Regions from separate parts of the Homo sapiens genome. Here region 1 is linked to region 2. The links come from fine-mapping of genetic effects on gene expression. A gene starts in region 2. The other region holds a variant in brackets. All regions are shown on one strand. Distances are from middle to middle.

Evidence for each region.
Region 1: its variant is fine-mapped to the expression of TWIST1 in ileum (GTEx, PIP 0.97).

What each region holds. Positions count from the first base shown.
Region 1 is chr7:19,465,492-19,473,835 of GRCh38, forward strand. No RefSeq gene overlaps it. Among named protein-coding and RNA genes, the nearest start is that of MIR3146, 240 kb to the right of the region's middle. The variant T/C (reference allele first, on the strand shown) is at 4,756.
Region 2 is chr7:19,113,333-19,121,676 of GRCh38, forward strand. TWIST1 (twist family bHLH transcription factor 1) reads right to left here and starts at 4,304. Exons shown (of 2, transcript NM_000474.4): 1 at 3,339-4,304; 2 at 2,136-2,799. The coding sequence starts at 3,989. The coding sequence ends at 3,381. RefSeq lists enhancers at 3,311-3,570, 3,594-4,377, 5,451-6,314.

The DNA.
Region 1 (8,344 bases), 350 kb after region 2:
TAATTTCAAAATAAATCTAATGTCACATCAAAAAAATTTTATTTTCTACTTAATAATTAGAAATGTGGTTGAGAATATGAAAAAACAACCAATGTACATTTTTCCTTTTATGGATCTAATGCTAATAAACATCAGCCCTGTATTCCCAGTCTATCTATATTACGCACATGAATCATGTATGGAGTTACCTAGAGAAAGTTAAAGTAGGAGATTTTGGGTCATGGCAATAGTGCATCTCTTTTCCCCAAGAGAAACAAATCTGACTTACATTCAGATTGGCTAGGTGGAAATTCCCTCCAGCTTTTATATTCCTGTGATCACTTGGCACAATATTTCAACATTGTAATAACTTTATCCATGGAGTCGAAAAATATAAGCCCCTAGGGTTAATTATAAGCAGAGTTGTCCTTGGTAGAAAATATCTTTCATTTCAATTATTTAAAAAGCACAGAATAATGTAATACAGGTTTCTGGAAAGAACGATAATGGTCAGATGCTTTTTCCTGTACCCTTGAGAGAAAGCATGACTCTGTTGAGATGCAAGCTTGGGGAATGTGATGCCTGTTTCCCCTCTCGTCTTATCATCATTTCACAGTGTGCTCCTGTGAAATTACTGTAACCTTTTCTATTTTAGGTGATGACTTTGCAAGAGCCTTACTCAGAAGTCTCGGGAAGCATTATGAATGTTTTTTAATGATTTTTTTGTGATTTTACAAAGCATCTTTTAAAAAATATCTACTTAAATGGGTTCCCTTCATTTTCAAGGTTTTGATCAGGTTTTTCTAAGTAGTAAGTGGAAAAAATATATAAATTTTATTTCATGAAATATTCTGTGGCACAAAAAGAAAAATGGATAACTGAATAATAGTTAATTTAGAGGCTGGGTGGATTTTCTTTTGGCTGCAAACGATTGCTCTTTATGGGCTCATGGTTTCTGGGGAATTTGGCTGAGGTGTAAGTCCTGTTTCTTGAAACTATTTATGTAGCCTTGATGCACACATATGTGAAACATTATAAAAAGACTTCTCTATTTGGGGTTGAGAACAAAGAAAGGTTACCAAAAACATAGATAAGGAAACTGGGGCTCCCACTGGTGAATCTTGGACAATGTAACAAAGCCTGTATCTCTCTGCTTTTCAGGCATCAGCCTTTTTGGGAGGCCTCCTATCCTAACTCACCCAACATGATCATACCTAAACTAGGATTTATAGTTTGAGCAGAAGTCCAAGGGTTCTGTCTGTAAGTGGAAAAAGTCTGAATGCACATACTAATTTATATGTCATACCTAATAGCTACCTAGACCCTGAGGCTGATTGCTCTTTTTGATGTCTGAGAAGCAATAAATTTGTAGCATTTCTCTTTTACCTAGCATGGCTTTGTAAAAACCATTCAAAATGTATGACAAGTATCAGAAAATGAAGGCAGAGGTGAAGTGTTCAAGCATTCTAAGGAAAGCAGCTATATAAATGAAAAGCATTAATATTATTATTATAGAAACACATTTCCTCATTAACCTCTACTTCCATACCAACAAATATTCTCCAAAAGGCTTATTTTCTTTGACCATTTTACATGCTTCCTTGGCAGCCACCTAGTAAAGCCTTTGAAACTGTGCATATTGCTTACAAATATTTCATTATGAATTGAGCCTTTCAGCTTGTAAATGCAGAAAAATTAAGCATGAAAAAGCCCAACACTACAAATGAAAACATAATAACCTGCACAATGTGCACATGTACCCTAAAACTTAAAGTATAATAAAAAAAAAAATAAGTAAAGCAAAGGTGAAAAGTCTTAAGCCAAACTTCATAAACCAAAAAGCAGTCTAAATCTCCTATCCCATAATGACACTCACTTTATTGGAAAGAAGCAGCCTACTTTTATTCAAACATGGTCATTTATTTAAGATACAGAATATCCCTAATCCACAAAGAGAAAGAGCCAGAGAGCATGGGAACAATTGTTTCTCTTCCCCCTCAAATATAAAATATAGGAGGGAACTCATACCCTATATAGTTAGCCTATTTGTAAAATTTGACTGTAAGGTATGATGCTACATTTGCTGATATTAATACAATATAATGAAATATTGATGTGGTTTTAAGTTTGCATTAATATGACTGTAATTTGTTATTTGCCATATATATACACACACATAAATATATATATTATATATAATGTATATATTAGTACTAGCTTCTTGGTTTCAATTCTTATGGTAAATTAAGTTATTTTATATATTGAAGGCAGATTAAATGACTTGACATGCAACTCATACTAACACAGCCACTACTAAAGTAGGTCAACTTTTAAACTGATGCTAGAAGACTACTTACAGAAAATTAAGGGTAAAAAATACTGTATTAATTTAAAGGGAATAATATTACATCGGCAAAAATAGAATATTCATTATATGTATTTTCTTTAATTTTAATTTTAGCTATTTGTACTTAAGATGGTATTTTACTCTAAGCATTTGATTATGGTAATCTATCTTCTCATGTTTTTCCTGTATTCTGTAACTCATTCTCAAGCATTCTAAGTATGATAATTTTAAGGTTAATATACAGTGTTAATTCAAAAGATGAAGTTTATTTAATTCATATTACAACTAGAAATATGGAATCAGTCTAACGTTTATACTATTTTTGTTGGAAGTAATTATGATTCAAGGGGAGGTATAGGATATAAATACTATCTTTACTCAGCAAACTCATTCATGTACTCATTCGTCACATATTGAGCACAAACTATATATGAGCAGTGTGCACAATCATTGTGTTCAGAAACTGTAGTGCTTCAGGAAAATGAGAAATCCCCAAATTCTCTTTTCCTATGAGTAATAGAGGAACCTCGTGATTTTTGAGGTCCATTGGTCCAATTTCCTGAATCTGTACAATCCATCACAATGGACCTTCTTAAAGTCTCTCTACCTAAGTTAACCTTGTTGGGGTTGATGCTTGGGGAAAGGATTAGTTTCTAGTCTCATAACTATGTGTGTGCATACCTGTGTGATAATCTGGCAGCTTGTACACCCTGTAACTGAGATTTCACTATTATCTAATTTAATATAATATTTTCAGTTGTCTTTTTTACTAGCAGCAGTAATAGTATCATAATTTACATGGAATGAATACTGTGTGCCATCATGGCTTACAGGAGTCTATTGTTTTCAAGTTATTTCAAGTTTCAATATAAATTACATAATTATATTGCTTTATGTATATAACAAAGACCTCATCCTTACAAGCAAGGTGCTTGAGTTCCGAAATGAGAATCCAGGTAAATATAATTGAACCAAAAATATCCAAGTATGTATTTATACTAGGGAGGCCACATGATTTATCATCCAAAGTTTTTTTGAGAGTAAAAGGGATACTCTTAATAATTATGTTGGCACAACATTTAAAAACCAAGACCTGGTCAAACTGGGATGTATGGTGACCCAGCTTATTACATATGTGTTGAGTTAAAAAATATCTGCACGCACATGCAGGTGTCAAACTAATGTGTGCTATAATAAAATTCAATTATTTGAATAGGATAGCCTTTATATTTATTATGGTGCTGGGAAATGATGTAAAATTAAAATTTAGTGTTAACAAATAGTTGTGTATATACTTTTTAAAACATTTTTGGAAGTAAAGGAGTATATTTTATACAATATGAAGATCATTTATAACTAGTACAGGATATGTAGGTGATGGGCCTTTTTTTAACCAGAGGGTTACAACCACTCTGATACTGCTCCTACTGGCAAATCTGTGGCTAAAGTAAGCATCAAAAACCACCCTTTCTCTTTGGAAGTTAGCACCCCCACTATGTACTCCAGCATCATCTGACAGAACCTCTATCATTTCTTCCCATGGATTAGGCAATATTGCATTACTTTGTCTGAGTCCCAAAAATTATTGTGTCATAACAGATAAAATTAATAATTAGCCGTTTAATTCTCACACTAGCCAAACCTATTTTGACCCTCATAAAGAAAATATTAGTAGAAGTCTCTTTTAGGATTAAACTAAATTTATGTGTTAATTTTAACTTGAGTATACTTGAAGAGATGGAATTTTCACTGCTTACTATGGGAAGTCATATACTAGAACTCAAATTTTCCGGAGCATGCTTAAGTATGGGGCATACTTATGGCCAGTCTAAGTGTGTCAGCAAAAGCTAGAATTCATATATATATAAAATATTCTCTAGTATTCTGTTTATAGGTTGTTTCACAGCATGAAGATAATTTTTACCCATAAATTTTAAACGTTCAAAACATTTCATATCCTGGGATTCCCAAAATTGATGTGGAATCATCAAACCTTAAGATAAACCCAAGAAACATGGACACTTCCATCACTAAAGATGATGTAATAGTGTCTGAAAATATTTTCCTTGAGTGAGTTGTGACTTGTGACAGTTGTATTTCGTTTGTTATTTCTTTGTAAAATGGTTTACTTTAAAATATTACACTTGAAAAATTATCTTGTTTATGGCATTTGAAGAACCAGAATAAGAAATATTATAAACTTAATTTGTACATTGGGTGGAAAGAGTAGATGATAGAATTCTATTACAGTAAAACAAGTAAACTAGATTGTCACTTTAAGAGATTTCTTATGGAGGATTTATTCTTTAGCTTGTTATGATCACATTTTTATAGAAACAGCTGTACTTGTTATCACACTCTGCCACATCATCAGTCATCTAGCTACTGCAGAGAATTCCCCCAAGCAGCACTGGACGTTCATGAGTTTA[T/C]ATTACTGCCATAAATTTTTGGGCTGTAAGTTTTTATACAAATAATCCCACGTCTCTTGTAAACATTTCGCCAATTGGTTAATAACATGATCTCTACCAGGGGATTTCTGGAATGTTTCTATCTTTTAAAAACAATGGCCTAGAGTACATTTTTGCAAATGCTAAAAACCTTCCAAATGAATTTGGGCAGTCTGAGGACATGTATATGATGAGAAAATATGCTTTTCCTTAATTTTACTGTTTAACCTCTTGATCCATTTTTTGGCTGAATCATGTGAAAGGATCTATTCACAAAAGATAATAGTTTAGTTATATTTGAAAAAAATATGGAGTGGCCTTTTAAATGAGAGTGGCGAGCTCCTAGCCATGAAACTCATTTCACAGTTCCTCCACTGCTCTTCAAAGTTAAATAATCACCAGAAAGAAGCCCAGCATTTCCACGGTGCCATCCATTATGTAGATGCCGGTGTTTCTTTCCCTAGGCACATTCCTCTCAAAATAAAAATGAAAAGAGTGCATAAGTTTGCCCACAGACTAATTTCTAAATGTACTAATCTGATCTTTTACCTCCATTTCTTTGGTGACATATAAATAGACCCTCAAATATTATTTCACAGCTCTAAAAGTTAATGGTGTTCTTTACTGGATCTTCCTTCATCAACGACACAGTGTCCTATTTTCTTGCGAGCTCTGTCTCTGACTGTCCTAAACCATTGACTGAATCTCAGATTCTAATGGTGAAGTTAAGGTAGTCTGAAAAACCAGAGGGAATTTTTCAAAAGGGAACTTAGATTTAACGTAAAATACATCATTTTAGATTTGGGGAAGAATAGTTTGAGATTTTGCATTTGTGATAATTCAGTGATCTGATTTAACATCATCATTCCAAAGCCAGTCAACAAATTTTCCAATATTCTAGGCGTGACCAACTAAATTAAAGTTTCAAATTGGCTCACCTACTATCCTCAATACTAGGTTCTTCTGAAGTATCTTTAGTAGCTAAAATTTAGCTGTGGGGAACTGAGCATCAGCTAAATTAAAGTTTGTTATGCATTCTATTGACATGAACAATGATGTTACTCCAGTAAAGATTTTCTGATGATAGAGATTAAGTAGATTTTCAAGTTACAGATTTATATAGATAGCAGAATCCTATTTGTAAGAAATTCATGTACATATGTTTATGCTTACAATATTAATGGATACCTACAAAATATTAATTGTGGTTATTTCTGGACTGGGAAGTTGGAAAGTGAGAATAGTTTAAGTTGTAATGTTCACCTTACACTTTTTGTACAATTTGAATTTTAGAATAATCAGGTATAGTTTTGATAGAGAAAAACTTAAAAACAACAAAAACCAGATAAAATCGATGTGATTTCATTCAGTGTTAATCATTATCAGAGCTATATTTTTTTAAAAAATTTCCATCTATAAAAATATCTTGGGTGATTACAATGTGTTAATACAGGTTCATGAATTGTAACAAATGTAGTATTCTGGTTGGGGATTTGATATTGGGAGAGGCTATGCATGCCTGGGGCCAGGAGGGCAAATGGAAAATCTTTTTACCTTCCTTTCAATTTTTCTATGAACTTAAAACTGCTGTAAAGTTTTTACATTGAAATTGATTAATTAAATTAGATATGATGGATTAGAGCTGATATTATGAAATTAAAAACCAAAAATCAATAAAACCAAATGCAGGTTTTTAAAAAAAAGTTTAATTAAATCACTAAGCAAGGCTAAGAAGAGAGGAGACACAAATTACTAGTATTAGGCACGAAAGAAGAGCGATCACTTCAAATTCCATGTTCATTCAAAAGATGATACTATGAGCAACTCTATTCCCTCAAATTTGATAACATAGACGAAATTGACCAATTTATTGAAAAACACAATTAGCCAAAACTCACAGTAGAAGAACTAGATAATCTGAATAGGCCTATATTATATAAATTGAATAAATAAATAATATTCTGTAGAAAGCACCAGTACCAGATGAGTTCACTGGAGAATTCTACCAAACTTTTAAGAAAAAAATTTTACAAATTCTCTAATCTCTTCCAGAAGACAGAAGCATAAGAAATGCTTCCTAACTCATACTTTGAGGCCAGCATTACCCTAATGCCAAAACAGAAGACATTACAAGGAAACTACAGACAAATATCTAACAAATATTGATTCTAAAATCCTCAACATCCTAGTAATTGCATCCAACAATGTAATAAAGTATTGCACACCATGAACAAGTGGGGATATACCCCAGGTATGCACGGCTGGGTCAGCATTCAAAAATCAATTAATATAATCTATTTCATCAAAAGGCAAAAGAAGAAAAATCACATAATTATACAAATAGATGCAGAAAAAGCATCTGATAAAGTTTAATGTCCATTCATGATGAAATAGAAATAGAGGTAAATGAAAATATCTACATAAAAATTACAGCTTACATTATACTTAATGATGACAAAATAGAATCTTTCTCACCAAGATTAGGAACAAGGCAAGGATGTCTCTTCCTACCACAGCTTTTCCACATTGTAATGGATGTCCTACTTAATATAGTGAGACAAGAAAATAAAGTAAAAACTGTAAAGATTGGGAAAGAAGAAATAAAACTTAGTTTCTTCACAAATGACATGGTTGCCTATGTAGAAAATCTGAAAGAATTGACAAAAATAACTTCAGGAACTAATGAGCAATTATAGCAAGGTTGTAGGAAACAAGGTTAATACACAAAAGTCAATTATTGCCCTATATACCAGCAATGACCAATCGGAAGTTGAAATTAAGACACGTTACCATTTACATTAGCACCCCAAAGATTAAACAGAAACAAATCTAACAAAATATGTTCAAGATCTATATGAGGAAGACGACAAAAAATCTGAATGAAATCAAGGAAGAACTAAATAAATAGAAATACTTTGATGAAAAGGAAGACCCAATATTACCAAGTTGTAAGTTCTTTCTAACTTGATCTACAGATTCAATGCAATCCTAGTCAAAATCCCAGACAGTTATTTTGCAGATATTGACAAACAGATTCTAGCATTTAGATGGGGAGGAGAAACACCCAGAATAGTCAACACAATATTGAAGGTGAAGGACAAAGTTGGAGGACTGACACTACATGACTTCAATGCTTATCATAAAGCTACAGTCATTGAGACTGTGGTATTGTTGAAAGAATAAACAAATAGGTCAATTGAAAAAATAGCCCAGAAATAGACCCAATAAATATCATCAACTAATCTTTGTTAAAGGAACAAAGGCAATACAATGGAGAAAACATGCCTTTTCAACAAATGGTGCTGGAACAACTCAACAACCACATGTTCAAATAAAATCTAGACATAGATCTTACAGTGGAATAAAAAAATTAAAAATGAATCACAGACCTAAATGCAATATACAAACTACAAAAGTCATAGAAAGTTTTAGACAATAACACAGAAGAAAGCCTAGATGAGTTAGGATATAGTGATGTTTGTAGATACAACACCAAAGGCATGATTCATGAAAGAAGTAATTCAGAAGTTGTAATTCATTAAAATTAAAAACTTACGCTCTGTGAAAGACA
Region 2 (8,344 bases):
AGATCCCAAGTGAACCAACACATTAATTGGAAAGCCTTAGCTTCTTATTTCCGAAAACAAGAGGTAATTCATTCTATGTGTTCTTTAAATAAGGGTAGGTAGCAAAAATAAAATGAAATAACATAAAATCAAAAGAAGATATAATGGTGGAGGAAAAGAAACAGGTGGCTTCATTTCTATTCTAAAAAAGAATTTCACGATTTATGTCTTGTGTATACAGGGGTAGGGATTAGAATCTGCAAGCTGGAAACTGCATTCCAGTAGTTAATATTTTTCATTGTGCAGTCGCCTCATTCAAAATAAAATTACCACCTTTTTCATTCATTTATTTCTCTGAAAATCTGGGGGGAAACATTACCTTCAGATTAGTATTTAATATTACTATAAATATGGCATTTGCTTTTCTCCAAAGTGTTTCCCCTTATGAAAAAAGTAGAAAAAGCAAAACACATTAAAAAAAGAAAGAAATAAAAGAAAGGCAAATGGAGAGCTACCTTTCTTTGACACATCTAGTTCTTATATCCAGAGTTAAGATAACAATTACCTTCTCAGCAGTCATGGCCAGCTCCATCCTGGTGTACCTTAAGAAATCTGAAATATCAAATAGTCAGACCAAGCTAGTGAACAAGGAGACTCCCCATGAATAATTTAGAAAATGGAGGTGGTTGGATGATACATACAAAAAAGAATTACCAACCTAATGCTTTCCCTCATCCTCCTAGGGCACCCTCCTTACATTTCTAACCTGCCTTACACACAACACACACACACCCCCAACAAATACACCAACACATAATCGCCTTCCCTTTCTGTTATTTGCTAAAGGACTATCAAAATAAAAAAATAATAATACTTCTCCAAGCTTTCACTAACCTTTTAATACAAGTCAATGCTGCAGACTCCTTATTGTAAAATATAGTCTGAAATATTAACAATAAATTCATAATATTCTTATGTCAGCATTCTATGGTGCTGTGTGAAGAAGAAAACAAAAACCTTCAGGCAATAAAATAACTTTGACCTGAGCTAAGCAAAAACGATCTGTTTGGATACATACACTTATTAGTCATTGTTTGAAACAGGCACCAAAATGATTTTCCAGTTTGAAAGCTTCCCCAGTTACACTTGGATGCAGTAAATCGGATGTAAAAGCTAAGAACTGATACAAAATCACTATTTCTAATAATGTTAATTATAAAAGCCAGTATGTTCCTGGCCCACAAATAATCAGAATGAAATAAAAAATCAAACACCCCCGTTTGCCCATTATTGTTTTACTTAACTTCAGATTGTGTGTGTGTGTATGTATGATCTCACCAGGGAAAAATTCTGTGTAATTCTGGATAAAATATAACGCTAATGAACTGACTAGTAACTGCATAGCTGTAGTATTTAAAACTGTGATTATTCCAACTGTGATTATATCCAGTTACCAAGGATACTGAAAGTTCAGGATCTTCATTTTTGTATATTATTCCACAGCCTTATATTCTTTACACATAAAAAAAGAATGATGCTTCCCAAATAGCGTCAATATAGCGATATATTAACTTTTCTTTTTAGCAAACATGACACTAAACGTCATATTCATTCATGAGAGAAGAGTTAAGCAAATTACAAATGGAATTTTCTCTTTTCTGCTGATTTACACTTTATTTTCTATGCATTTCTGGTCATTTCTATATGTGTATAGATAATTTTCATAACACTATATATGTTTTCACTGAAAAGAACCTGTTATTTAGGAATCTTCACAAAGAGTGAAGAGCATGACAAAAAGTACATAATAAGAGAATAGTGCAGGTTTTATACTCCTTATTTGCATTTAACTGTTTTAACAACTATCACCTCAAAATAAAAAGGAGGTGAATAGCAAATTTGTTAAGTTTTTGCTGTTTGGAGACAGTAAGAGATGAAGAGATGCTACTAAGCCCTCTGAATACCAAACTGGAATAATAATAAAGCTGTCTTTTAAAATAACATGCTTGTGCCTGTCAGTAGCTGCTTTATTTGAGTTTTTCATTGCTTTGTTTATATTAGTGCCCCCTCCCTCCTGGGTGCCTCTAGAATTAAACAAGCAGGTATTTACCACCAACTTAATCTTTAGTTTTAAAAATATAGACCAAACTCTAAGGTTCTCTAAATTTTTTATATTTATTTATTGCAGAAAAATATACAAAGATATTTACAAAACAATCATAAAAATATGAATGCATTTAGACACCGGATCTATTTGCATTTTACCATGGGTCCTCAATAAATAAATAGAATGTTGTTTTTTGTATTTTAAGTTTTTTTTTGTTTTTCCCCTCAGAGGAAGGATGAAAAAAAGAATTAACTGACTATGGTTTTGCAGGCCAGTTTGATCCCAGTATTTTTATTTCTAAAGGTGTTCTTATAGTTCCTCTGATTGTTACCATTTTAAAATAGAGAAAGTCCATAGTGATGCCTTTCCTTTCAGTGGCTGATTGGCACGACCTCTTGAGAATGCATGCATGAAAAAAATAAAAATAAAAACATTCTTCGTCAAAAAAAAAAAAAAAAAAAACACAAACAACTGTTCAGACTTCTATCAGAATGCAGAGGTGTGAGGATGGTGCCGCTGCCCGTCTGGGAATCACTGTCCACGGGCCTGTCTCGCTTTCTCTTTTAAAAGTGCGCCCCACGCCCTGTTTCTTTGAATTTGGATTTTGCTCTTCTAATTTCCAAGAAAATCTTTGGCATATATTTTTATTTTTAGTTATCCAGCTCCAGAGTCTCTAGACTGTCCATTTTCTCCTTCTCTGGAAACAATGACATCTGCAAAAACCCAGAGGGGGGGGGGGGAGTCGGTTATTGTTTAGGTCTCTGCGGCTGTTTTCTAAGACTAGTGAGCACTGTTCTTATCACCACCACTGAGAAATTAAGCTGAACAACCTGGAAGGATTTCAGCCCAAGGGCAAGAGGAAGTGGGTGGGTGGAAAGGAGGAGGAGGTGGAATTTGTTTTAAAACATTTGTTTTAAGGAGAACAAAAATTGAAAGCCGAAAGAAAGGGTGGCGCTGACAAAACGGTCCTTACCCGTGACCCTGGGTGTCTCTGTCTCCCCTCCTGTCACGCACACTCACGCGCACACACACCCCTCACCAGGGCGCATCCCCCTGGAGACTGCTCTCCCTAGCGGGGTCAGACCGGCCTTCCGGGGACGCTGGGGGCGCGAGGCAACGGTGCCAAGTGAGGTGGGAAGGCTGAGCGGAGAGTGGGAGAGGGGAGGAAATCGAGGTGGACTGGGAACCGCGGCCTGGCCGGCCTGCCGTCTGCCACCTGAGAGGCGAAGGGGTGCAGCGGCGCGGTCCTTACCTAGGTCTCCGGCCCTGCTGAGGGGGTGGGGGGCTCCGCCTGCTAGTGGGACGCGGACATGGACCAGGCCCCCTCCATCCTCCAGACCGAGAAGGCGTAGCTGAGCCGCTCGTGAGCCACATAGCTGCAGCTTGCCATCTTGGAGTCCAGCTCGTCGCTCTGGAGGACCTGGTAGAGGAAGTCGATGTACCTGGCCGCCAGCTTGAGGGTCTGAATCTTGCTCAGCTTGTCCGAGGGCAGCGTGGGGATGATCTTCCGCAGCGCGGCGAACGCCTCGTTCAGCGACTGGGTGCGCTGGCGCTCCCGCACGTTGGCCATGACCCGCTGCGTCTGCAGCTCCTCGTAAGACTGCGGACTCCCGCCGCCGCTGCTGCTGCCGCCGCCGCCGCCCGCGCCGCCGCCGCCGCCACAGCCCGCAGACTTCTTGCCGCGCTTGCCCTGGGCCGGGCTGCCCGGCTCGTCGCCGCCTCCGACGCCCCCACCCGCGGCTCCGCCGGGCCCCGCGCCGCCGCCCGCGCTGCGCCTGCTGCTGCGCCGCTTGCGTCCCCCGCGCTTGCCGCTCGGCGGCTGCTGCCGGTCTGGCTCTTCCTCGCTGTTGCTCAGGCTGTCGTCGGCCGGCGAGACTGGCGAGCTGGACACGTCCTGCATCATCTCTCGAGCGGCGACGCGTGGCCTCGCGGGCCCGGGGCAGAGGAGAAGAGCGGGGCGCCTCAGCCCGCCAGCTTCCCCCGCGCGCGGCGCCGGCCCGGGCGATGCGGCCCGCGGAGGAGAGAGCAGGAGGACGGACGGGAGGGACCTCCGCGGGGAGGGCGCGCGGGGGAGGCGGGGAGGGAGGCGGGAGGGGGAGGGGACGGTGTGGATGGCCCCGAGGTCCAAAAAGAAAGCGCCCAACGGCTGGACGCACACCCCGCCAGGCCTCCTGGAAACGGTGCCGGTGCTGCAGAGCCCGCGAGGTGTCTGGGAGTTGGGCGAGAGCTGCAGACTTGGAGGCTCTTATACCTCCGTGCAGGCGGAAAGTTTGGGGGCAGCAGTGTCATTGGCCTGACGTGAGGAGGAGGGACTTTTCGAAGTTTTATAGGAAAGTTTCCGCTTTCCAGTCCCCCTCCCCCGTCCCACCTCCCTTCCTCGGGGTCTAACAATTCGTCCTCCCAAACCATTCAAAAACGACCTGGCCCGGGCGGCCGGCCCCTCCACCCGCCTCCTAGCCGCCCTCCCCCTTCCCTCCCCGTCGCCTTCCTCCGGCGGGCGCGGGGCGATTTCCTTCCCCGCCGGAGCGTGCGGGCAGCGCCCCCGAACCCTAGCGCAGCCCAGGAAGCGGTCGGAGGAGACTGTCCTGGCCGCGGTGGCAGCCCCATCCGGAGTGGCTGTGACAGCAGCAATGGCAACAGCTTCTACACAGTGGGTGATGTCTCATCTCGCCCAAGAGCCCTCTAGGTCCGTGGGGCCGATTTGGGATTGCTGGGGCTGGGGGGGTGGTGTGGCGCGGGGTGGGGGGGCATGCCAAGAAAAGTGTCAACCGCGGAGCCCACCCAATGGTCAGGTAGACGAACCCCTTGGAGTTCCAAAGGCCAAACCGCGGCGGCCCAGCCCGGAGGTCCTGGGCGTTTCTGAAGACGTGGCCGCGCCGCGGGGGCTGAGGATTTGCGTCCCGGCCTGCTCTCTCGCCCTTCTGGGCCCTCCTTTCCCCTCTACAACGACCCAGTCTGACGCTCCCCAACATCCAAAGGACTACGCCTCGGAAGGTGCTCGAAAGAGGCAGAAGTTCACTCTTCGGTGGAAGGAAACCCAGTCCATGGGAAAGGCAGCAGAGCCAGAGGGGGGCAGCGCAGCGCCTTTGCTGCGGCCCTAACAGCTGGCAATGCCAACCCAAGGGAGAGACCCTGTGGCCATTTCATCCCCACCCCCAAATTAGGCTCCGCATTGTGACCTTGAAAGGCCAGCTTGTAAGAGAGTGAAGTGGGAATTTGATAGCGCCTAGACATAGGGGCTGCCCGCTCTGAGACCCCCCCCGCCCCAGCCCCCACTATCTAGGGCATCCAGTGGACAATTAGGCTTCGTGAGCCCCAATTCCAAATGCTTGGATACGCTAACATTTTAAGCATTTCTGTCTGTAAGTTAAAACGAAGAGCCCCAAAGAGGGTGTTAATGTAGATCCTGGCAAACTGGAAGCAGCAAAGTTGGTGAACCAGAAAGGAAGTCGCCTTGGATAAGAAGCCCATCTTTTGCAATGCCATACTTGTTTCCTTTTTGAAATGAATTGAGGTAAAATAACCGTTTCAGGTCCATCCCTTACATGGCAAAGTAAAAAGCTGGAGTCAGTACACAGTGTTGGGGTGGGGGCAGCGTTTGGGGGCGACGAGTTTTGTGCACCGCGCTGGAGTACCCTGCACATAAGGTCCGCTCATGGGCTTCTCAGTACGGACTCGCCGGCGGGAACAATTAATTGAGCAAAGCGCCCCTTTCTGGGCTGGAGCAAGGTTCGCGGCTGCAGATATCTCAAGCTGAAGGCAAGAGCCCAGGCGAGGCGCAGGCAGGCCACGTGGCTGTTCCCTGCTGAGACTCGCAGCTTTGGTCTTGGAAACCTCAGGGTGTGGAGCTGCTTGGGCCGACTGAAGGGTTCAGCTTTTTGGGAGAAGTGAGGGCGAGTGTTATTTCTCCAGCGAGGTGTAAACAAGACTGTGCTTTCATGGGAGGGACAAATTGCAGAGTTGATCCCTTACCATTTTTACAGAAATACTCAGAAAGTGACTACAGCTTGTCAACTGGCCTGTTTAGTGAGCCGCTGCCTTACTGTAAAATTGTCTGAAAATCAGATTCGACTTGACCTCCACTTAATTTCAGTAGCACTCTAGCAGTTCTCAAAACAGTCACCCCTGCACCCTTGCGTTTGCATCTTCCGCTACAGGATTTTATCTCTTGGAAGCGCTTAGAGAATGCGGCAGAAATTCTGCCCCACTCTCCACCAAGTGTTCTTTTTGTAAATCTGAATTTACAGTATTCTGCAATTCTTATTTAGAACGTGGCTGCAGAAATCTCGAAACCTTTTCCACTTCAGCTATTTTTTTAAAGATAAATCTTATTTTTGTTTTGTTCTTTTTTTCTCTTTTCTCAAAAATAAATAAAGAGATCGAATGATTGGACTCTTTCCTTTGTGGCCACGGATAAGTAAGACAGGAAAGTGTGGGTAAAGTGTAAAGGAAATCTTACCTGACCAAGGGGAATTTGGGAAGGGGAGGGGAGCGGACAAGCTAGAGGAGAAACCAAGTCCACAGCAGCGCAGCAGCCAGGGGTCATTAGCCAGTCCATCTTGCAAAGTCATCAGTCTCAAAGACTGGTTCTTAAACAAGTGAGCCCAGCCCTTTTCCCGGCACTAAACTTCTAGCTGATGAAGAGCTCCTGGCCATTGGGTACAGGGATCCCCGCAAGGCTCAGGCGACGCTCTGATGCCAGAATACTGAGAGGGGAATTCAAAATGAACACCTAACCAGAACCATCCTGCCCATGGACTCTTTCAGCCACAGTCACAATTGATGACTAGTTCTAAGAAGAAATGGCTCTTGAACTGTTCCGGGGAGTGGAGGATGAGACGACTTTTGAGTTCTTAAGTGGGGCTTGAATGTTACTTTTGGAGCAAAAGTAGTCCAGGAGGTACCTCTCAAAAAATGGCTGGAGCTAGATACTCCCTGCTTTGCAAACTGCAACACGCCCTGGCTGACGAGTCCAGTCTGCTCATATACAGCTCTTTCTTATCTAACATTTTACCTAACAATTTTCTTTTCCACATTTGCAAGGATGGCTCCCTTTTTACTTGTTGACAGGTCAGGTATAATTCTGGATTCTCTTATATATGCAACAATAATTGCAACTTCTGCAATGTTTAGTTTAAATTTGAAAGCTTCTTTCTAAAATCCCAATCTTGAGATCATGAAAACAATCTTAGAAATTTTCTTTTGAGGCTGAAGTTAGCCTAACTGGAAGTATGTCAGTGGGGACTACCTTCTTTGGGAATGCTAGATTAACTGGAATTCAGTCATTTTGCCTCCTTCTAAAGTAAAGTCCTCCCCAAAAAAATTTAACTGAAAAAAAAAATTTCTTTTGTACTTGGATAGTTCAAAACGATCTTTGTTTTCAAACTGCAAACTTGGCATGTTTGCAATCCTGCCTGAGGAATGTGTGCTGTGTTAAAAATTGAAACAAAAAATACTGTTAAAAGTAACAGAGTTAGAAATCTCACATTGAACATATACAATAAGTATTAAGTATCCTGGCAGTTTGAATATGCTGTGACATTCTCTTAGCAACAACCAATTATAAATACTTTTAGATACGGAAAAGAAACACACACTATAGAATGGTTAGCCAACTGGTAAATTCTGGAGTTTGGGCTTGCATAAAAGGTGAGTACCTCAATCTGTTCCTACTCTTCTTTCTCCTCAGACCTTAGATGGCCTATCACCTGTTTGTTGGCTCCGAGTTCTGAGAAATAATTTATCTGAATTGCATAAATAGTGCACAGGAGCATTCGCACGGAAGGGAGTGAAAATTAGAAAGGCTGCAATTGAGTGAATATCAGATGAGGTTGTATATCTTAGATTTCATCTTGCTTTGAACACTCCAGAGGGACTGCTGTTTAAATGAGAGAATTTTAGTAAGGTGGAATATAAAGTCATGTATGTCAACACAATAACTGTGTAAAAGCTTATTCTTCTTTCATGACCCTGGTAGCCTTAATGATGTTTGAACACCTTTCCCTATATAAAAACTCATTCTCTTTCTCTTTAAATGATGATTTGATTCATAAACTCAACTGATTCTACATTTTTCTATCTGAATATCTTTAAAAGTAAAAAAAACAAACTAAAGTTATAAAATGTGAAGTTTTCAATCCAGAAATAAAACGAAAAAGTAAAAAACACAATAAATTAGGGTGCGAACAGTACCGCAAGTGAAATTTTCAAATAAATGTTAATCTTTAAAATAGCTGACATTCTGAACTCAGCTTAAGG